2 separate regions of the Homo sapiens genome follow, and region 2 is linked to region 1. The links come from fine-mapping of genetic effects on plasma protein levels. A gene starts in region 1. The other region holds a variant in brackets. All regions are shown on one strand. Distances are from middle to middle. Region 1 holds the start of COL28A1 (collagen type XXVIII alpha 1 chain). Region 2 overlaps MIOS-DT (MIOS divergent transcript).

The links. PIP is the posterior inclusion probability: the model's chance that the variant is causal. The UK Biobank Pharma Proteomics Project read protein levels with antibody pairs (Olink). The fine-mapping took linkage between variants from a reference panel, not from the people measured, so its PIPs are less certain.
Region 2: its variant is fine-mapped to the plasma level of the COL28A1 protein (UK Biobank, PIP 0.99).

Annotation. Positions count from the first base shown.
Region 1 is chr7:7,529,309-7,540,602 of GRCh38, reverse strand. COL28A1 (collagen type XXVIII alpha 1 chain) reads left to right here and starts at 4,730. Exons shown (of 35, transcript NM_001037763.3): 1 at 4,730-4,853; 2 at 7,691-7,851; 3 at 8,699-9,255. The coding sequence starts at 7,728.
Region 2 is chr7:7,552,204-7,563,497 of GRCh38, reverse strand. It overlaps MIOS-DT (MIOS divergent transcript), which reads left to right. Exons shown (of 5, transcript NR_110084.1): 3 at 8,309-8,342; 4 at 10,576-11,294. Among named protein-coding and RNA genes, the nearest start is that of MIOS-DT, 8.2 kb to the left of the region's middle. RefSeq lists enhancers at 5,689-6,188, 6,189-6,690. The variant TC/C (reference allele first, on the strand shown) is at 5,557.

The DNA of each region.
Region 1 (11,294 bases):
GCATTTAGAGATAATGAAAGATGGCCACTTTGATGCACAAAGACCTAAATTTTAGTCCCTCACTGATTAATGATTTGACCTTTGGGTGGGTCTTAATATCTGTCCTCTATTTTATCAACTGTGAAATGGCAGAATTAAATAAAAGTGGTTTCTAAGTTTCCTTCCAGTTCAGAGATTTAACACTATTGTTTGTCCCCAATACAAGAAAAGTTTAAATACCAATCAGTGGTTATCAAATAATTCACCAAGATCTAGAATAACACTGTCTAATATCTGAAAGTAAAATGAACTAAGTGAAAAATAGAAATATTTTGCCATTTAAAGCAGAGTTTAGTCAAGGTATAAATAGATCTGATCTTTCTCTATTTGTAGGCTCTGCATGAAAAAGTTAAAACTGCTCTATCCATTGACCAAAGAAAATAATTAAAGAAAAATATTGAACATTCAAACCTATGATAGGACTAGATCAATCTACTTTCAGATATTTCTTAGAAAAAAAATTGTAAAACTTTCCAGATGGCACCTTGATTTATTTTTGGTCTAAAATAATTGCATTTAGTCAGGAATAAACAACATGGAAAGAAGAAATATTAATATTGAAAAAATATTTTAGAGAAAGAGATTAATAGTCATAAGATTGGTATAACGGGAATTTAGCCTGTCACTGTAGCCTATGAGGCACTGTGTGTTGCAAATGTGACACAATTATTCAAGCTGGGGATTGAATGACAAATAATGAAGCAAGAGATCTTAGGGAGTAAACGATATAAAAGATAATTGAGTCCGTGTTGCTGTACCCCGAAACTGCTCTAAACCATAAAGTTTATTAAATAATAGTAACAATTGAAAAATAGTAGAGGGAATGTGGAAGGATCAACTCAATCAGAATTTGGTGAGGGCATAGGAACTGAAGTCACGCTGTTCCACATTTAAGCAATGCCACATCCTGTATTTTATTACCAATGATAATTTTTATTTTCTTATTGTCTTTGAATGCTTTTAATCTTTCCCTTTGTTGACAAATAAGACCAATACAGTTTTGGTGTTTGCCATGGTTTGCATATTTGCCCCCTCCAAACCTCGTGTTGAAATTTCATCCCCACTGTTGGAAGTGGGGCCTGATGGGAAACGTTTGGGTCATGTGGGTGGATCCCTTATGAATGACTTAATGCCATCCTTGCGGTAATGAGTGTGTTCTCTCTGTATTAGTTCCTGGGGGAGCTGATTCTTTAAAAGAGTCTGACACCTCTCTCCCTGCTCTCTTGCTCCCTCTTACCATATGATCTGCACACGCTGGTCCCCTTTCACCTTCTGCCATGAGTAGAAGCAGTCAATGGCCCTCACCAGAAGCAGATGCTGGTGTCATGCTTCTTGCATAGACTGCAGAATTGTAAGCCAAATAAACCTCTTTTCTTTATAGATTACTCAGCCTTAGGTATTCCTTTATAGCAACACAAAATGGACTAAGACAGTGTTCCTCTAATTACTGATGAAGGAGTTGAGAGAATGCCTAGGTCATATTCTGGGTCCAAGGATAATGAATCCCAGAAATTTCAGAGCTTTGGGGCAGGTGTTAGAAATTCTACTATATCAAGCTTTTCTACTGACAAAAAGAAGAAAGAGAAAGAAAGAAAGAAAAAGAAAAAAAGAAAGAAAGAAAGGAAAGGATCTTCAAGAACAAATTTCTTCAAATCAGGTACGAAGGTCATTAATTTCTTCCTTGTTAGTTGGTAATGTTTTTTTTTTTCTACTCTAGATCAGCAGTGTGGGAGGTGGCTAAAATAGGGAGAAGCTTGTGAAACTATACTATGCCTTAATCTTGGTCAAAATATATAACTTTGATTTGTTACCAGCCTTTTTTTGTGTGTATTTCTATGACTTCATGCAGATACAATTCTCTGAAATATGTAAGTCCTAGCAGACTTGTCTCTTTTTAAATGATTCTAGGACCCCAAAATATCATCACCACTGAAATTAAGATGTTGGCACTGGTACTAGAATCAATAAACACAATGCAGATGCTACTATGGTAGCATATTAAAAGAATTTGAAAAAGTTGAAAAAAGATTTTCATCTAGCAGAGCTTTGGAGAAGAGCAATTTATTGTATCACAGACCTCAAGTGACTGATAAACACTAAAAATTACTTCTAATAATCATTTATTTCACAAATATGACTGCTTACTCTGGGCTATTTATAGTAGTAACAATGAAAATAGTGTGCTATATTTCTTCCATAAAGACTTTTACTACAAAATAACTGTCAGAAGGGCATGGGCTCCACGTTGCCTTTTTCTAGTCATTATGGTTATCCATGCTCTCTTATTTGTTCTGGTGTAAGTCCAATAGCATACTAATTCAAGACCATCTGTTGGGATTAAGATTGTGGTGCATTGTTTCTCTGGGTGCAAAACTAATTGTCTTTTATAGATTGATGAAACTGAAGATTTTATTTTGCATAATCTTCCCAATTAATTTAGTGCTGATTTTCACGCTTGAGAATGAGAGGTGGCAAATCTTTGGTTTGAGTTACCCTATTTAATGTTGGAGAATGAAAGGGAATGGATGACTAAGTTGGACTCCAACCTCCCACCAACTTTAATCAAAACAGCTCCAAGGCAGGAGGGCTTTAGTCCATTTCCCCCATCTAGGAATCACCTGTTTGCTTCTTAGTGGCATTATTATTCTGCATGTTTTTAACCTGCCTCAGCAAAAAGAGAGTTGACCTGAAAAGATGCTACTTCCTTGTCTCTTGATTCTCATCTTACAAAAGTAAAAAGTGTGACTAACACCCATAGGCTATCAGGTAAATACATGGTTGTTCCCTAGGAAATTCCGTTGTTATTTCTGCATTATACCCACCGTTTCTTCTTTCTGTTACCAAAGCCTCACAAAACTTCCTCAGTTCCTCGAAACCTGTTTTGTGAGGAGGAGACAGTGAAAACACAGACGTTCGCATAGATACTTAATGATGCAGTAGTTGTTATAAGTGAGGCTCACAGGTCTTACCAGCCTGAGTTAAAAGTTCATTTTGCCATTCTCTGGTTTTAGTATGACAGCGGACAAGTTACTGAACCTCTCTCTGCCTCCATCTTGGAAAAATTCGAATTCTTACAACATCTACTAAGTACAAGGGGTCCTGGAATAATATTTTGTTCAATGTCATTTTGTTATAACATTGATGAGAAAAAAAATTCAATTCCTGGGCCAGGCTCACTGTGTGGAGTTGACATGTTTTCCCCATGTCTGTGTGGGTTTTCTCCAGGTCCTGGAGTTTCCTCCCACATCCCAAAGCTTTGCCCATTAGATGCATTGGTGTGTCTACATGGTGCCTGTCTGAGAGAGTGGGTGGGTGTATGAGTGCCCTTTGACAGTACTGCATCCTGTCCAGGGCTGGTTCCTGCCTTGTATCCTCAGCTGCTGGGACAGGATCTGGTCAACCGTGACCCTGAACTGGAATATGCAGGTAAGCAGTTATCTTGTTTTTATCAATCTTTCATAAATGTATATATAGCTTAGATTTATTTCAATGTTTATTATTAGAGGTGTTTTGAGTATTTAGAGGTTTAGTGATGTTTTTGTGACTAGGAATATGCCATAAGAGCTTAACTCTTATTTATATCAATTAGCTCTTGGGAAAATTGTCTTCATTATCAATTGTTTCACTTTATGTCACAGTTTCCAGAACCTACAGAGGACATTAAGTGAGGACTTACTGTATATAGGTGGTTGTGCTTGTGAAGGATTAAATGAGGTAATGTGTGTGAAGCACTCAGGACAGTGCCTAGCACCTGGTAAGTGTCCATGAATTGGAGGCTATTATTGCTGTAATAAGGAAATTCATACACATTAAAATGGCTAAGAAAGTTCATTTTAAATAACCGTAACATGCACATTTGTATTGCTTTCTCGGATGATCTTGCTATTCTCTATTTCAGAGGAAGTCCGTGGAGAAGCCTGCCTGTTAGCTGTCTAGGGGTCAGGTGGCTTCTTGGCAGTATATATTACATGATAAACATTGACTTAATATGGACCATAACCACAAGGTAGAAAATAGGGAAACAGGGAGTGGAAAAACCACAGTGATCCTTTCCTAGAGAGAGACCAAAATATTAACCGCTGTAAACCTCTCATGTTACAGTTCGAACACATCTTAATAAATGATTAAATCTACTCTCTCATTTCATAAGTGGGGAACTGAAGCCCCCATAAAAGTTAGGGGCAGAACTATGACTATACTCAGACCACTCTTTCCCTGTATATTATATATACCTTTTATTATAAAAAATTTCAAAAATCACAGAAATACAAAGACTAGAACAATGCACACCTATGTACTCATCATCCAGCTTTAATAACAATCAAACTGTTACCTCTCTTAAAAAAACAGCTTTGATTCTGAGTCTGGTGTCATTTATACTCCTTCACAGAGATGTTCAGAACCAGTATCTTAGAGCACATCCCCCAGGCAAAGAAATGTAGCAATAAAAAGAGAAGGACATAGCATGAGAAAAAAAGGCAGGCTGTCAACCAATGCCTAAAATGTAGAAAGTTCTCTCAAGTTGTTTTTACAATAGTCTGGAAAACACAGTCTCATTCTGAAAGGACACTGTTCCTTTAAATTGCTTACTGATCCCACCCAGATCTTGCACCCTGGCCAAATGCCTGACCACTCTTGCTTTGACTTAGTCGAATAAACATGAACAAAAGACTGCAAAAGATCCTAAAGCAAAGACACTTTTATTTCCCACAGAACAGAACAATATCAAATAGCTAACTTCACCCCCAACCACAGTCCTTGCTGTTGGCATTTACTCAACTAGTCTTTAATTCCTGTTTGACAAACTTTATAAGGTAAGACATAACAGATTTATTTTAGTCACTTGAAATCAGATAGGACCATCAAGGAACTGTGGAAGACTAAATGACTTACTTACATAATTATTAGGTGAGAAAGCTTGTCAATAGTTTGTATTCTCTGCAATTACTTCAAATCAATTATTAGAAAAATATTAACATTGTTAAAATGTAGAAATTTAAAACTTAAAATTATTTTGAAATGGATTTTTAATTTACAGTCTTCTAAATTGTTTTACAACGATGTTAATATATTTTAGGACATCTTTTTCTTAATTTGGAACAGGGTTTACAATTCAGAATTAGTTATAGAATACTTTACAACTTGGCTAATTTGTCAATTTGAATAAAGTCTTTATTCAATCATTTTCTATTTGTGTAGAAACTGAGATGCAAACATTGTAACTAAAGTTGGTGAACTCTGATATAAGATCATTTTATTTTTGAAAAATTATAAAAAATAAAGTATCTTGGATTTATTTACTGATCCTGATATTTACCCCAAATAAATTTTAGGCCAAAAGTAAAACTACGGTATTTGATTAATAATTATGATTGTTTCTGCATTTATAAAATGTAACCTATAGTAAACACAGAGGTTCACATTTCTTTCACTTAACTAATGGCACTGTTTCCTCTGAAACCTATTTTGCTTGTACGTGACATCAGAAAGAGAGAAAGGTGAGAATTATTAAAAACAGAGGCAAAATAAAACATGGTAAAAAGTGATTAGAAATGAGTGGGCTCTCAAGATGCCAAATTAATAAACGAGAAAGATATTTCAGGGAAGCAGTAGAACTAACAAGCTAGAGAAACAAATCTAGAGAGGTATGAAAATGTCCTCTGGCTACAATAGGGAAACAGAAAGAAATAACAAGACTTTGGTTTGGGAGAGCTAGATTAACAATGTCAGAGCAAATAAGAACAAAATATGAGATACTGGGATTATTGTCAATGGAAAAGTTATGTTTGTGAATATCATATATACAGGGATCAGGTACAAATTCATGATTATATGCCAAGAAAACAGTAAGAGCAGGTGCTTAGTTTTGGGAAAAGATAAATCTTTATTTAAAGCCAGTATTTCTAAAACCTTACATGAAGGGTTTTGAAGAGTTGCTTGATTATGTTGCTTATAAAATCTTGCTCAGTTCTCAATGGAATTCAGTTCTCAGCCTCTTATTTCCAGAACTTCTGAGATGTTCCTTATGGTATGAACTCAACCAAAGAGAAAAGTCATATGTAATACCATGGCCATGGTGTTATTCCCTTTCCCCTTTGAAAATGCAATAACAACTGTGTTTTTCACATAGCCTTATCTTTACACTAACCTTCAGACTTAAAGTTGTACATCATTTATTTTTTTCCTTGGTTAGCAAAGGGACAACTTGAGGAGAGATGGCCTTTGTGTGTTCTGTTTCCTTAGCACATTTCTTGGTTTTGTTTTGTTTTTAATACCCAGCTGTCTTTACATTTTAGTATACCTTGTCTGAGGATCAGTTGGCATTTGGCCAATTGCTACACAAGATGTTTGGTCATACCTATCCAAAGTTCTTTTAATACACTTCCAGCTGGATGATGCTATGTGAGGAGCAGACTGTGGCATGAAGCCATCCATTGGTCCTCTCCTAACCCAACAGTTTTGTTTCCCTTTGGGGTTTATCCATCTGGCATGTATGAAAAAAGTCAGTCTCCATCTCACTCCTCACTGCCTTTGCATATATTTCCACTCTCTACTCAGAGTCTGGAAAAATCGTGCTCATGATTTCCCAGATTCTTATCCCCTAAAGGCAAGGTGCCAAAGAAGGAAAATGTGATTCCTTTTCCAGAACTCCTGAAGTCAATAAAGTTTCAGCAGGCAAGCATTTTTAAGCCATACTAAGTATTGATTCGAAATAAGCTTTCTCGTTCCCATTCTCTTGGGTATACTGAGGCAGCAACACATGAGTCTTCTCCTCCCAGGGAAATCTGTCAGTTTAAGAGTCAGTTGGTGTGTAGCTAGGCATATTGACTGATGAAGATTGAGGATTTTAATACAGAATTAGATTTTTCGTTGTTAATCCACCCAGAAAAATAGTTTCACGGGGCTATTCAGAGGGGGTGCTTCTTGGCTTTAAGTCCCGTTTCTGTCCATTAGTTCTTTTAGCCATCACTGGAAGAAGAGTGTTGCTTTTAAGCAAATCTATTATTTTTGCTCTCATACTCTTTTGATTCATTGCATATGCAGCTTTGAACCCCTGGTGGAGACAAAGTTTCCAAAGCTAGGGTAGAAAAGAGAGATGGGGTTCTATGGAAACAGAAGGGTCGTTTAATTTTTACCTTGACCTCTGAACTCACTGAAGTTATGTGTGTAGTATTAAGCCTGAAAGGGTGGTGGTTGTCTACAGTTCTACAAAATACTAGATTTGTCAGGAATCAGTTATAATGAAAGTGAATGAAATGACCATATAGCAATCTGAATTCCCCCTGAAGAATTTGGAAATGTCAAAGCAGACCCTGTGATTGAACCACAGTAATCATATAGAGCGGGATTGAAATGTTTTTAAATGGCTCTCCCAACTCTATGCTCCTCAAAATACAATGCGGAATTAAGAATACTTAAATATAGTTCTTTGAATATATAGAAATATTCACTAATAAATGTTTGGTCATGGTGCCATGATTTATTTGGATTGAAATCTTTCAAAATCTCAATGTGAATATTTTTCTAGAAATATGAATGAAAACCTCTTTTTTCCAGTCACATGCCAGTTTTCAACCCTGCTGGCTTGAAATTTAAAAATAACAAACACCATATTTTATTAAAGTATTTGTAACTGACTTTTCTATTAAAGGTGCTACAAGACAGATGATTTTTCACCATCTACCATAATGTGGAACAGATATTTTGTCTTCTATCTCCTGCTTTTGTCAGCGTTTACGAGTCAAACAGTATCCGGACAAAGAAAGAAAGGACCAAAATCAAATTTGCTTGCAAGGAAAAGTGATGTCCAGGGTAAAAAAAAAAAAATTGTTTGTTTTTAAGTTTAGCCTGTTAAAAATACTTATGTGAATTTTTCTAAATAGCATTTGATATAAATAGCAAGCCATATACATGTATACATGTGATAGTCTACTTTGATAAAATTATATGATGATAATATACCTTACATACTTATAGCACATCAGAGTCTTTAATAAGAGCACTTGTGCACTTATTATCTCATTTGAGCCTCACAGTAACCTTGTAAAATAGGCAGGACGGAGATTGCCACTCATAGTGTAGATTAAAAAAATTGAGGTCTTAACAGGTCGAGTGGCATACTCAAGGCCATAGGCAAATTAACCACTGAGACACAGAGCTGGGATTTAAACTTAAGTTGTGTTTAAGTTAGGTTTCTTCTCCACTTACTCTTGGTATAGGGGGTATAGTCATTTTCTCCCTTGATTTCAAGAAAGTTTAAAAAAAAATAGGGACTCACCAATATGACACAACCTGAGAATTAGAGTATCATTTACTTCTAGACAACTATGCTCAGTGTTAGTTGGATTTTTAAAATGTGATGCATCTTGACTTCCCATTTCCTCCCACTTTCAGCAGGTTTAACATTGAAAAGATGCTCAGAATAAAAGATATCTTATTTATTTTTAATTTGCATGATTTTACAAGGAGAAAATAATTCATAAACTTAGACATTTAGTTTTTTACAATTGAAGCCTTCTGTCCAACGTGTCTCTCTTTCTCTCCTCACGCTGCTCTCAACACCAAACAATATACAACACACCACTTCAGGGCTTTCCGTATGCAAATTTGTTTCATGATAGGAATAATTATTTTGCCTAACCTGTTTATTCTGTTTCAGGCTCCATTTGTTTCATAGATATTGTCTTCATCGTGGACAGCTCTGAAAGTTCTAAAATTGCCCTCTTTGATAAACAGAAAGATTTTGTGGATAGCTTGAGTGACAAGATTTTCCAATTGACTCCTGGTCGCTCCTTGGAATATGACATCAAACTGGCAGCCCTTCAGTTTAGCAGCTCTGTCCAAATTGATCCACCTTTTTCTTCCTGGAAGGACCTGCAGACATTTAAGCAGAAGGTCAAGTCTATGAATTTAATAGGGCAAGGTACCTTCTCTTATTATGCCATTTCCAATGCCACTAGGCTACTTAAGAGAGAAGGGCGTAAGGATGGTGTGAAAGTGGTTTTGCTGATGACTGATGGCATCGACCATCCAAAGAATCCAGATGTTCAAAGTATTTCTGAAGATGCCAGAATTTCAGGAATATCATTTATCACCATTGCACTTTCTACGGTAGTCAATGAAGCCAAACTTCGTTTGATTTCTGGGGATTCATCCAGTGAACCCACTTTACTGTTGAGTGATCCAACCCTTGTAGATAAAATTCAAGATCGTCTGGTAGGTACCTAATGGGTTGATTATACAGTTATCATCATAATATTGACATATTTGTTGTAAATCCCATAAGAAGAGATACTGGGTCAAAAAGATGGAGAAAATGAGAGTTAACACTGAAAACAGAAAGAAGAATCTTTCTGAAGTGTCACTCCACTTTCTTGGCAGTTTACTCCAGACAATCTGGAAAAGTTCCAGGCTAATTCCCTGGAATTGCATTTTTAACTTTATTGCTAGCTGATGCTGAGGATTTTGGAAGGGGTTATTTTCCAATCATATACCTTAAGCTCCTGTTTATACAGCCTACAATCATGAACATTGCTGACTTATATTCAGGTTGTGCTCAACTTGAGGTGTTAGGCTATATTTGTACCAAGTTGGTCTTTTCCCATTCCACATCTGTACAGGTATTTTTGACATAATCTTGACATATTCTCTCTTACTCTTCTAAAGGACTGAGTATTTTTGACTCTGTCTCACCTATTGTTACATTATGCTACTCAAAGTTCATAGACTTCCAATTTTTAAAATTACCTCCTTCTTTCTTAGATGTTCTCAAGCCCATCCAATTTAAAATCATCTGCAACCTGCAGTCAAGCAACAGTTTCTCCCATCAAATCAATGAGTCCCACTTGATAGGTCTGGTCAGCTTTTCTTTGTTTGTTGCTCAGCTGTGTATAAAAGCCTTTCCTTGCTGCTTTGTAAAACACACGGCACCACAATCAAAAGGAAATCCCTCTTCACAATATTTCTCAAGGAGAAAACGCCTAGAGATAAATTGGTTGATTGGCTGAGTGTTAAAAACTGATTTTCTTAAAAACTTGGATTTCTTTGATTTCCTGAGAAAGGAAGGCAAAGGTGTCCTTTATGTACTGAGCGTTTCATATGGCTGTTTTCTACAGCTTGCACAGAAAACTCAGGCTCTATTTCAGAGATTGTTTTGCTCCTTTTGTCTTATCCCTCGATCTTTTTCTCAACATTACTCTTATCTTTTTACTCTCTGTTGCTTTCAGCATAAGATCTGAGGTTTTCTTACCTAAATAATAGCTCTTAGGTATTGAGTACTCTCTCTGTATTAGGCATTTTCCTGAACACTTTATATATTTTATTTTATTCAATGTTTGCCACAATCTTATGATGTAGGTAATGTTATTATACCCATTTTGTAGTTGAAAATTTAAGGCCGGTGAAGACCTCACAGTTTGCATGCTTAACCCTATAAAGGCATATTGAGAGAGGAAATAGTAACTGCTTTTTAAAAAAATATTTTCTCAATCAGAACTGCTCTGAAACAGTTTGGTAGCAGCCCTCCTCCAAAGTTACTATTGTTTCTAGCCTTTTTTTCCTTGGGGATTCGGGGTAAATGGGAGAGTTATGCCTAGATCAGAGATAGAGCTGATGGGCCCAGTCCTGTGGTGCTCAAGGTAAGTACTCATTCTGAGCAGCTCTTTTGCATGAAAGGGAAATTTGTAGTGGTTCCTGGCTAACACTTAGCCCTGCCTGTGCCATGACTTAAGGGGTCCTCACCACTGAACATAAAACAGAGGGCTCCAGCCCGTGTGGGAGAGAATCCTGGTGATGTGGTCATGAGTGGGCTGTTGTTACTTATTCATCTTCACCTTAAGATGGATAAGAGCTGACCATAGAAGATGCGGGACAGGCAGCTCCTTGTTTGGCCACAGGTGTAGGCTCAGGTTGTTCATATTCCCACCAGATACACCCTCGCTGAGAGCACCTGCTTCACTGAGAACACAGGCTCTTGGCAGTAGACTGGAAGCAAAATTGTTTGTCTGTTCCTGGGCAAACAGAAAATGACTGAATACTGCTCTTCCTTAGCATCCGGCGACTTCAGCTTGTTTGTTTAGCATCTGTGATTTCAGCTTGTTTGTTCAGATGGAAGCTCCATGAATAAACCACTTTTTAGAAGGAGGTGCTGCTTTCCAAACACTTACAGGATCCAAAGTGCTTATTAGGCTCTTCAAAGAATGGTATACCAACTTTCAATGTTACAAATTGCCACCATCTAGAAGGCAGAACTTGAC
Region 2 (11,294 bases), 23 kb before region 1:
AACAGTAAACCGTAGCAGAGAACTTGACAGACTGGTCTGAGATTACACTAGTTGCCTTTACTAAACATGCGTTTTACAATAGATCCTAGGGCCACTGTAGTTCAGTCTCGGTATTTTGTTTGTTTTTAATTTAAGCTTTTGTATTCCTAATAGGATTTTTTTATTGTTGTTTTTTTGAGATGGAGCCTCGCTCTGTCGCCCAGGCTGGAGTGCTGTGGTGTAGTCTCAACTCACCACAATCACTGCCTCCCAGGTTCAAGTGATTCTCCTGCCTCAGCCTCCTGAGTAGCTGGGATTACAGGCATGCGCCACCATGCCTGGCTAATTTTTATATTTTCAGTAGAGATGGGATTTCACCATGTTGGCCAGGCTGGTCTCGAACTCCTGACCTCAAGTGATCTGCCTGCCTCATCCTCCCAAAGTGCTGGGATTACAGGCATGAGCCACTGCGCTTGGCCAGGATGTTCTTTTTAAGATTCTTCATTTATGTTGTGGTGATCCAGGAGAGGATTTTTGTTGTGGTTTTAAAACCAGAAGGATTGCAGTTGAAGGACAGCGAATTTCTTTCTTATTTACAGCTGCTCCTGGCAGCAATTCAGTTACTACAGTACTGGAACATTTTGTGAAGTCTGTGACTGGCTAATCCCAATTCTTTTTATTTCCACATGCACAAAATCAGTCTGTACCTGAGAGCAAGTTTTGCTTTTAGATGGAGGCTGGGCAGGTATCAAGCTGAAATGAAGCCCTGTAAACATGTGCCATGGCTTAGGTAATCTTTTCACATAGGTTGAAGATCAGAAGATCAGAGATATCTTAAAATAATGGCCTTCAAAAACTTTTCTAGAATATCCCCAAATAAATTTTTTAAATCAATGCATTTCTTCATGCATTTTGGGATTACACCTAACATTGTCAAAACAAATTTACATAGTTGTCAAGTATATGATTTGTAATATTTTTTAAATCTTTAAATTATAAGCAAAACAGGGCTGGGTGTGGTGGCTCATGCTTGTAATCCCAGCACTTTGAGAGGCCGAGGCAGGTGGATCACCTGAGGTCAGAAGTTCAGGACTAGTCTGGCCAACATGGTGAAAGCCCGTCTCTATTAAAAATACAAAAATTAGCAAGGCATGGTGGTGCGCACTTGTAGTCCCAGCTACTTGGGAGGCTGAGGCAGGAAAATCGCTTGAATGCGGGAGGCAGAGGTTGCAGTGAGTCAAGACTATGCCACTGCACTCCAGCCTGGGCAACAGAGTGAGACTCTGTCTCCAAAAAAAAAAAAAAAAAAAAAAGTTTTTGGAAAAATTTGACAAAGCATATCATGTGAATTCAGATTTACCTCAATACCAAGAATTATGTTTAAATAGGACAAGGAAGATTTTTTAAGTTTTTATTTTAAGTTTAGGGGTACATGTGCAGGTTTGCCATATAGGTAAACTCATGTTATGGGGGTTTGTTATATAGATTATTTAGTTACTCAGGGATTAAGCCTAGTACCTGTTATTTTCCCTGATTCTCTCCCTTGTCTCACCCTCCACCCCTGGTAGGCCCTAATGTCTGTTGTTTCCCTCTATGCGTCCATGTGTTCTCATCTTTTAGCTTCCGCTTATAAATGAGAACATGCGATATTTGGTTTTTTGTTCCTGCATTAGTTTGCTAAGGATAATGGCCTCCAGGTCCATCCATGTTCCTGCAGGGGACATGATCTCATTCTTTTTTACGGCTGCATAGTATTCCATGGTGTATATTTACCACATTTCTTTTAACCAGTCTACCATTGATGGCCACTTAGGTTGATTCCATGTCTTTGTTATTGTGAATAGTGCCACGACAAACAGACATGTGCATGTGTCTTTATAATAGAATGATTTATATTCTTTTGGGTATATACCCAGTAATGGGATTGCTGGGTCAAATGATAGTTCTGTTTTTAGGTCTTTGAGGAGTCGCCACACTGTTTTCCACCATGGGTGAACTAAATTATATTCTCACTAACAGTGTATAAGCATTCTTTTTTCTCTGCAACCTTGCCAGCATCTGTTATTTTTTGACTTTTCAGTAATAGTCATTCTGACTGGGGTGAGATGGTACCTCGTTGTGGTTTTGATTTGCATTTCTCTAATGATCAGTAATGTTGAGCTTTTTTTTTTCATATACTTGTTGGCCACATGTATGTCTTCTCTGGAAAAGTGTCTGTTTATGTCCTTTGCCCACTTTTTAATAGGGTTTTTGTTTTTTGCTTGTAAATTTGTTTAAGTTCCTTATAGACGCTGGATATTAGACTTCCGTCAGTTGCATAGTTTGCAAAATTTTCTCCCATTCTGCAGGTTGTCTGTTTATTATGTTGATAGTTTCTTTTGCTGCACAGAAGCTCTTTAGTTGAATTAGGTCTCATTTGTCAATGTTTGCTTTCATTGCAGTTGTGTTTGGTGTCTTTGTCATGAAATCTTTGTCTATTCCTATGTCCAGAATAGTATTGCCTAGGTTGTCTTCCAGGGGTTTTGGGTTTTACATTTAAGTCTTTAATCCACCTTGAGTTAATTTTTGTATATGATATAAGGAAGGGGTCCAGTTTCAATCTTCTGCATATAGCTAGCCAGTTATCTCAGCACCATTTATTGAATAGGGAGTCCCTTCCCCATTGCTTATTTTTGTCAGCTTTGTTGAAGATCAGATGGTTGTAAGTATGCAGCTATATTTTTGGGCTGTCTGTTCTGTTCCATTTGTCAATGTGTCTGTTTTTGTACCCATACCTTTCTGTTTTGGTTACTGTAGCCCTGTAGTATAGTTTGAAGTCAGGTAGCATGCTGCCTTCAGCTTTGCTCTTGTTGCTCAGGAGTGCTTTGGCTATTCAGGCTCTTTTTTGGTTCCATATGAATTTTAAAATAGTTTTTTTCTAGTTCTGGGAAGAATGTCATTGGTAGTTTGATAGTAATAACATTGAATCTCTAAATTGCTTTGGGCAGTATGGTCATTTTAACAATATTGATTCTTCCTATCCATGAGCAAGGAACATTTTTTTCATTTGTTTGTGTCATCTCTGATTTCTTTGAGCAGTGTTTTGTAGTTCTCCTAGGAAAGATATTTTATTCTTTTTTTTTTGGTAATTGTGAATGAGATTGTGTTTGTGATTTGGCTCTTGGCTTGACTGTTGTTGGTGTATAGAAATGCTATTGATTTTTGTACATTGATTCTGTATCCTGAGACTTTACTGAAGTCATTTATAAGCTGAAGGAACTTTTGTGTAAAGACTATGGGGTTTTCTACATATAGAATCAAGTCATCTGTAAACAGGGATAATTTGACTTCTCTTCCTATTTGGATGCCCTTTCTTTCTTTCTCTTGCCTGATTGCTGTAGCTAGGACTTGCAATACTATGTTGGATAGGAGTGGTGATGGAGGGCATCTTGTCTTGTGCTGATTTTCAAGGGGAGTGCTTCCAGCTTTTGCCCATTCGGTATCATGTTGGCTGTGGGTTTGTCATAGATGGCTCTTATTATTTTGAAGTATGTTCCTTCCATACCTAGTTTATTGAGAGTTTTTTAACATGAAGCAGTGTTGAATTTTAATGAAAGCCTTTTCTGCATCCATTGAGATAATCATGTGGTTTTTGTCTTTAGTTCCATTTATGAGACAAATCACATTTATTGATTTGCGTATGTTGAACCAACCTTGCATTGCAGAGATAAAACCTATTTTATCATGGTAGATAAGCTTTTCAATGTTCTTCTGGATTTGGTTTGCCAGTATTTTGTTGAGGATTTTTGCATCAAGGTTCATCAAGGATATTGACCTGAAGTTTTCTTTTTTTGTTGTGTCTCTATGAGGGTTTGATATCAGGATGATGCTAGCCTCATGGAATGAGTTAGAGAGGAGTTCCTCTGCCTCAGTGTTTTTTAATAGTTTCAAGTAGGAATTGTACCAGCTCTGGTAGAATTCATCTATGAGTCTGTCTGGTCCTGGGCTTTTATTTTTTTATTTTTTTAATTGGTAGTCAGCCACTGATTCCATTTCCGAGCTTGTTATTGGTCTATTCAGGGATTCAATTTCTTCCTGGCTCAGTCTTGGGAGGTTGTACGTGTCCAGGAATTTATGTTTCTTTTAGATTTTCTAGTTTATGTACATAGAGGTGTTCATAATATTCTCTGACGGTTATTTGTATTTCTGTGGAGTCAATGGTAATGCCCCTTTTATTGTTTCTGATTGTGTTTATTTGGATCTTCTCTCTTTTATTTTTATTAGTCTAGCTAGTAGTATATTCTGTTAATTTTTTTAAAAACCAAACTCCTGGATTCATTGATCTTTTGAATGTTTTTTTGTGTCTCAATCTCCTTTAGTTCATCTTTGATTTTGGTTATTTCTTGTCTTCTGTTAGCTTTGGGGTCAGTTTGGTCTTGGTTCTCTAGTTCTTTTAGTTGTAGATGTTAGGCTATTAAATTGAGATCTTTCTAACTTTTTTATGCAGGCATTTAGTGCTATAAATTTTCCTCTTAACACTGCCTTAGCTGTGTCCCAGAGATTCTGGTACATTGTATCTTTCTTCTCACTAGTTTCAAAGAACTTCTTGATTTCTGCCTTAATTTTATTATTTACCCAAAAGTCATTCAGGAGTAGGTTATTCAATTTCCATGTAACTGTATGGTTTTGAGCAAATATCTTAGTCTTTATTTCTAATTTGATTGCACTGTGGTCCAAGAGAGTGGTTGTTATGATTTCAGTTCTTTTGCATTTGCTGAGGAGAGTTTTGTGTCCAATTATGTGGTCAATTTTAGAGTATGCACCATGTGGTGATGAGAAGAATATATATTCTGTTGCTTTTGGATGCAGAGGTCTGTAGATGTCCATCAGGTCCATTTGATCTATTGGTGAGTTCAGGTCCTGAATATCTGTTAATTTTCTGCCTCAATGCTCTGTCTAATACAGTCAGTGGGATGTTGAAGTCTCCCATTATTATTGTGTGGGAGTATAAATCTCTTTGAAGGTCTCTATGGACTTGCTTTATGAATCTGGGTGCTTGTATATTGGGTGCATATATATTTAGCATAGTTAGGTCTTCTTGTTGAATTGAACCCTTTACCATTATGTAATCCCCTTCTTTATCTTTTTTGATCCTTGTTAGTTTAAAGTCTGTTTTGTCTGAAATTGAGATTGCAACCCCTGATTTTTTTCTGTTTTCCATTTGCTTGGTAGATTTTTCTCCATTTCTTAATTTTGAGCCTATGGGTATCATTGCATGTGAGATGGGTCTCTTGAAGACAGCATACCAATAGATCATGTTTCTTTACCCAACTTGCCACTTTGCCTTTTAATTGGGGAACTGAGGCCATTTACATTCAAGGCTAGTATTCGTTCCTATCCATATTCTGAATTCTGTTTCTGTCATTTCAGCCATCTCAGCCTTGTTCAGAACCCTTGCTGGAGAGGTGGTGTGGTCATTTGGAGGAAAGAAGGCACTGTGGTTTTTTGAGTTGTCAGAGTTCTTGGGTTGGTTCTTTCTCATCTCTGTGGGTTGATGTTTCTTCAATCTGTGAGGTTGCTGACCTTTGGGTGTTTTTT[TC/C]TTTCTTTCATCTAGTATGATGACCTTGAGGGTTTGGTTGTGGTATAAGATGGATTCAGTCAACTGGCTTTGTTTTTGGAAGATTTTAAGGGGCCAATGCTGAAGCTCTCAACTCTTGGACTGTGTGTTCTCTCTCTGGGGGACTTGTATCGGGCCCTGATCTTGTTGTCTGGATCCTTGAGGTTAGGAATCCACTGTATGGGGGGTTGGGGTGGGGAGCTGAGGTGGTTCGGATTGCTGTTCACTACACTAATGGGTGGTGTTAGCCAAAGCATTTTGTAGTGCAGTAACACTGGGATCCATCCTCGTTCACACATGACAGCAGCAGTGGCAGTGGAAGCATAGTGAGGTATATGCTTGTTTGCTGCAGCAGGGTACAGGTGCTGGGATGCCTGCCTCCATGTGGGCATTCATCACAGCGGCAGAGGCAGCACCGCTGGGTGGGGGTCGGGGGGTCGCTGCTGGCAACTGTGCAGTCAGGCTGGTGGTGGTGTTAGCATGGGGGTGGGGTGCTGGTGGGCACAGGTCTGTGTGTATTCTCTGTGTGCTGCAGGCTAGGGTGGTCCCTCAGGGCAGGGGAGGATCCACTGTTTTCTCTGCCTAGTTTCACTCCCAGGGCAGTGTTGGCACAAGGGCAGGGCACTGGTGGGAGTAGGGCTGGCTGGCTGGCTCTATGCCTGCCAAGGCTCCAACTGCAATGGTGGTGGTGGTGGTGGGGAGGTGGGGTGGAGTGCATTCTCACTGCAGCAGTAGCAGGGCAGGGAGCTTGCACACACTGCACTGGTGGGTAAGGAAGGCAAAACCTGCGCATGCACATGTGCTCTGGGAAAGCAATGTGGGGGCTTGCTGTGAGCCTGGGAGAAACTGCAGTGTAGAAAGGGAGCAGGCAGGCTGGTGCATGGCCATGGGGGCCACCCCTCTGGAGCTGTCTGCCAGCCAGGCATGATCTGCCAGTACAGGAGCTGTGAAGTGGGCCCCCAGGGCACCTGAGGCTGCTCTGCAACCAGGTGTGGGGAGGCTGGGGCCCTGGGAGAGGCCAGCAGACCAAGAGGTGCTCAGGTTGAACTGGCCCCATTTGAAGGGCAAGATCACCTTGCAGAGTTCAGATCTTACAGTTTCCCTAGGGCTAAAGTCTCTTATGGGAGCAAGTTGAGTCTAGGGAGATGGGCTTCCCTGGCTGTGCTCCACTAAAGATGCTCCTGCACCAAACCGTCTAGGCTCTGCCTCAGCTGATGTGCTGCCGCTACCACTTCTCTAAGCAGCCTTTCCTGCTAACTCAAGTGTCTGTGCTGGTCAAGGGGGTCTCCTCCTGCTGGGATTCCAGAGGCCCATGGCAAGAACGGGTTGCTCCTTGCCAGTTCAATTCACCTGTTCCCCTGGTGTCACTGGGGCCAGGAACGAGTCTCAGTGTGTGGTAGCCTCATGCAGGGTTCCCAGCTTCTTCCCCCTTCAGCCCAGGTTCTGTGTCTTCCCTCCATCCACTCTAGGTGACTTCCCTCTGAAGATCTGTTAGACATGCCCCAGTCATCTTGGTTCCTTGGTGGCAGCTGTTCCACCTGGCTGTGTCCAGTCAGCCATCTTGCCCTCCCTCCAGAAATTCAAAAAAAATTTCAGGTAGAAAAATAGTTTGATTGCTTTGAATTTTATGTAGCTTTAGACTTTTAAAATGTCAGAATTTATTCACTTACTAAAAGTGATTTGGAAAATTATGCCTTTGGTTTAATTATTGGTAATTACACTGTCATTCTCTTTCCCTTGTGTATTGAACTAGGTCCAGAATTCAGTTTATGTAGACTCTGAACATGTTATGAGAATCTGATTGATGTTTGTCCCCTGTATTTAAAGATTAGCATTGGATTATTTCATGTTGCATGCCTGTATCAAAAGATTTCATGTATCCCACAAATAGATACACATACTATTTAAAAGAAAAGTACACCTTTTTAAAAAAGATTTTTAAAAATAAATAAATATTAACACTGGAATATTTCAAAGTTGTCAATGTGGATTGTCTCAACCAATAACCACTGCTTGATCTATATAATTAATTTTTTTAACAAAAACTTTATGATTAAGTTATTCTTCAATTGTAGGAAATTTTACATTGTTCTATTTTTTTCTCCTTGAACTTGTATTTCCATTTCACTCTTTCCCACTGGATTATTTGTTTATTTAAGAAAAAATTATATAAATATATAGCATCTACTATGTGTCAGAGATTTTAAATATAGACTCATTTAACATACTATCTCAGGTTAGGTTTCCTGGGAACCAGATTCTAAAATGGAGACTAGGATGTAGCATATTCATTAGGGAGTATTGTTGGGATCAGCACCTAAGGATGGGAGGAGGAAGAAGGGAGATTAGGCAGAGGGGGAGATTGAGCAGCTATGCAATGCCAAAAAAGGCCTCTGCCAGCCCATGGGTAACTCTGGAGTTGGACTGGTCCTTCAGAGTTGTCCTGAGTTGGGGGCTGGGACACAGGCCTTTATACTATTCCATTTATGTGGATGTGTCATTGAATGTGAACTGTCCCTTGGAGGAGGCATGATTTTGAGTGAGGCAATTTCCTCGGGTAAGGCAGTCCCCAAAGAAAGCTGACAGCTGAGGGCTGTCTACTGGCAGCACTTCCCACAGCTGAAGGAAGAAGTCACTAATGACCAAAGGAAAATCTGGAGGCGCATCACAGGGCTCACAACATCTTCATCACAACTTTATGAGGATAACACTTTTATTTTTCCTATTTTGCAGATGAGAAAACTGAGGCACAGAGAGGTGAAATAAGGTAGGCAAGCTCATACATTTCTTAAATGGTTGCGCTAGGATACAAACCCAGACAATCTGGCGCCAGCATTGTGCTTCTAACCACTGGCTCGTGCACTCTCCAAGGGAACTGCCTTTTGATCTAATTATATGCTGTCATTAAAATAATCTTTTAAAGCAGGAGTTAGCAAACTGTTTGTAAAGAGCCAGATAGTAAATATTTCCAGCTCCTCAGGCTGTGCTGCCTTTGTCACAACTATTCGATTTTGCTCTTGTAGTGCAAAGGCAGCCATAGATAGTACATAAACAAATAGCCATGGCTCTGTGCCAACAAAACTTTATTTACAGAAACAGGTGGCAGGCTGGATTAGCTTGTTGACCCGTTTTAGGAAATTATTTAAAGATTGAGAAAGCACTACGGTTTACTGTTACAGGAATGAAATATTACTGGATGAAATAATTATACTGATCCTAGCCTTATTTTAAAAGGGTAAGTTTTAACAGATTTCTCTGTGTGGTAGGTTTAAAAGTGATCATTATTTTCTTCATTATACTTTTCTGTGTTTTCTAAATTTGAATGTAATTGTTATATGCGTTACAATATAAAAATGTTTTTAATAAGAAAAAAATGAATGTTATTTTAAGAGTATAATTGGAGGGATCAGGATGCTAAATTCCATAATAGACACATCATAATCCTATATCCACAAAGTTAAGGTACAAATAAGATTCAAGCAGCATATCAGATGCCTTATTAACTGGAGCAGTTTTAGCATGACAACTGCAACATGGGCAATCCAAACATTTCCTGCCTTGCTCATTGCTTTTTTTGTTAGTAATTTGGCGCGTTTCTTCTAACGGGCACTGAGTCACTAAAGTAGCAGCTATCAAAATTGTTCTCAAATTGGCATCGTTAGTACCAGTAAAACCACAGTCATTTTACTGCCTGATCTCTACCCCTCATTGAACAAGACTTGAGTAAATCACATTTGGGATTTTGAAACAGATGATGTGGCTACATTCTGCCAATGTCTCTGCTCCCACAGCTATTGCCCTGCTTTAGGTCTTAATTACTCCTCAGCCAGACGGTAGTCTCCCCAGTTGGCCTCTGGCTCCCTGGTTCCTGCTCATTTACTCTAATCCTTTTCCTCTGTGAGGCCAGATTGATTACTCTGAAGCATACCTGAAGCGACCCTTTACTTAGAGCCTTTCATTGGTTAACATTCCCTATAGACCAACATCCAGACTCCTCAGACTTGACTTAAATGTCCGTGTTGCAAGTCATAATGGTTGAGAGATGAGAAAAAAAGTTGTATTTTCAATGAATCAGATTAACTTTATAATTAGACCCAAAGCAGTTATATAAACAGTTTTCTGTTGGTAGTAAAATAAGAAAAAGATTTTCAGAACAAGAACTGGGAGGTAGATGTTTATTAGACTATGAAGACAACGCATTGAGGACCAGGGTCATTTTGAGAAAAAGATTAGGTCACAGAAAAATCAAAGCATATGTGATTGGCCTGAGTCAGTAATTTGGACTATTTCAGATGTACCTTACATCTGTAAGGTACACATTGTACCTTACAATGTGTAACTGGAAAACCTTCAGATGGATAACAGAGTTGACTCACATGCTCTAAATCCTGGAACATTAGCAGCTCATTTGAGAAGCTAAGCCTGACTTTCTTGGCTAAGTATAATCATAACCCAAGGAAGCAATGAAAGAGGGAAAAAACCCAGAAGCATAAAGAGAACCAGAATTAGAATCAGGACAGGCATGATGTGGACACAAATTTACTTCCAAAGTTTTAGCCTTTTAATGACTTTTATACTATTCAGTTTTATAATCATTGTTCTATTGGCATATTTTGTCCTCTCTTTGAAAAATATTTCCAAGAGTCTCCTACTTTAAACTTGAGAAGAGGGATTCAGTTTGCAACAGTGCTTAAGAGAAATCTCATTTACTAAATTAATAGATGTTAAATGTGTTGTATAAATGAGGTAAGTATATGATAATTATTTAAAGATTAGTAAATTACATGTAATGGTGAATATTTCTCTCCATGTAACATGGATAAAAACATCTGGAATTTTTTTAAAGGGTTATCAACATGAGGTTGTCCCTACCTACTGTGGCCCAACATATTTTTTCCCACTTGATTTCTTAATTCATACTAGAGCTGTCCCACTGAATTGTTCCCAATTACTTTTCCATAGCACTTTCCTTATAACGTGCTTTTGTTCCTTCCCCCCAGGCCCCCAGAATGCTCTTCTCCAAGACTTAGAAAAATCAAATGCTATCCATCCCTCAAGATACATCCCTCCAGCCCCTCCTTGAAGTCTCCTGCAGCTAGAAGTAGAAGTAGCATCTATCCCCATCTGGACTCCTTAGCACTTTGCTGTACCTGCCTTAGTCCCCATCTCTTTACACACACACACACACACACACACACACACACAGAGTATTATAATACTATTACCTATTATATTACATTATATTATTGTAGTTCTACAGGAACTACAAGGAATTCTACTGTGAATTCCTTAAGGGTGGGATACATTTTACAATCATCACTGTTTCTCTCATTAGTTGTGGAATCAAAAAAATGAGTGCACGATGAAAAATTATTCAAACACATACATGCTTTCATTCCAATTGAAAATGTAAAAATATTACTGTTAAAACAATATTAAAGGACATGTAATACAATTCAAATATTCCTACCATGCACGATTGTTTTCACTTCTTTGTGCCTCTTTCACCATTTATTTGTGTGCATACTCAGCATATTTGTTTGTGTAACAGGATGTTAAAAATAGAATTTGTTGCCTGTAGTTTTTGCTAAAGCTCTACTAGACTGGAACAGAACAATAGGTGGTAAATACTCCATTCCTCAGTGAGATGCTACCTACCTATGCAGAGCTGGAAAAGATTTTGCAACCTGAAAACCCAATCCTTTCTGAGATATAAAAG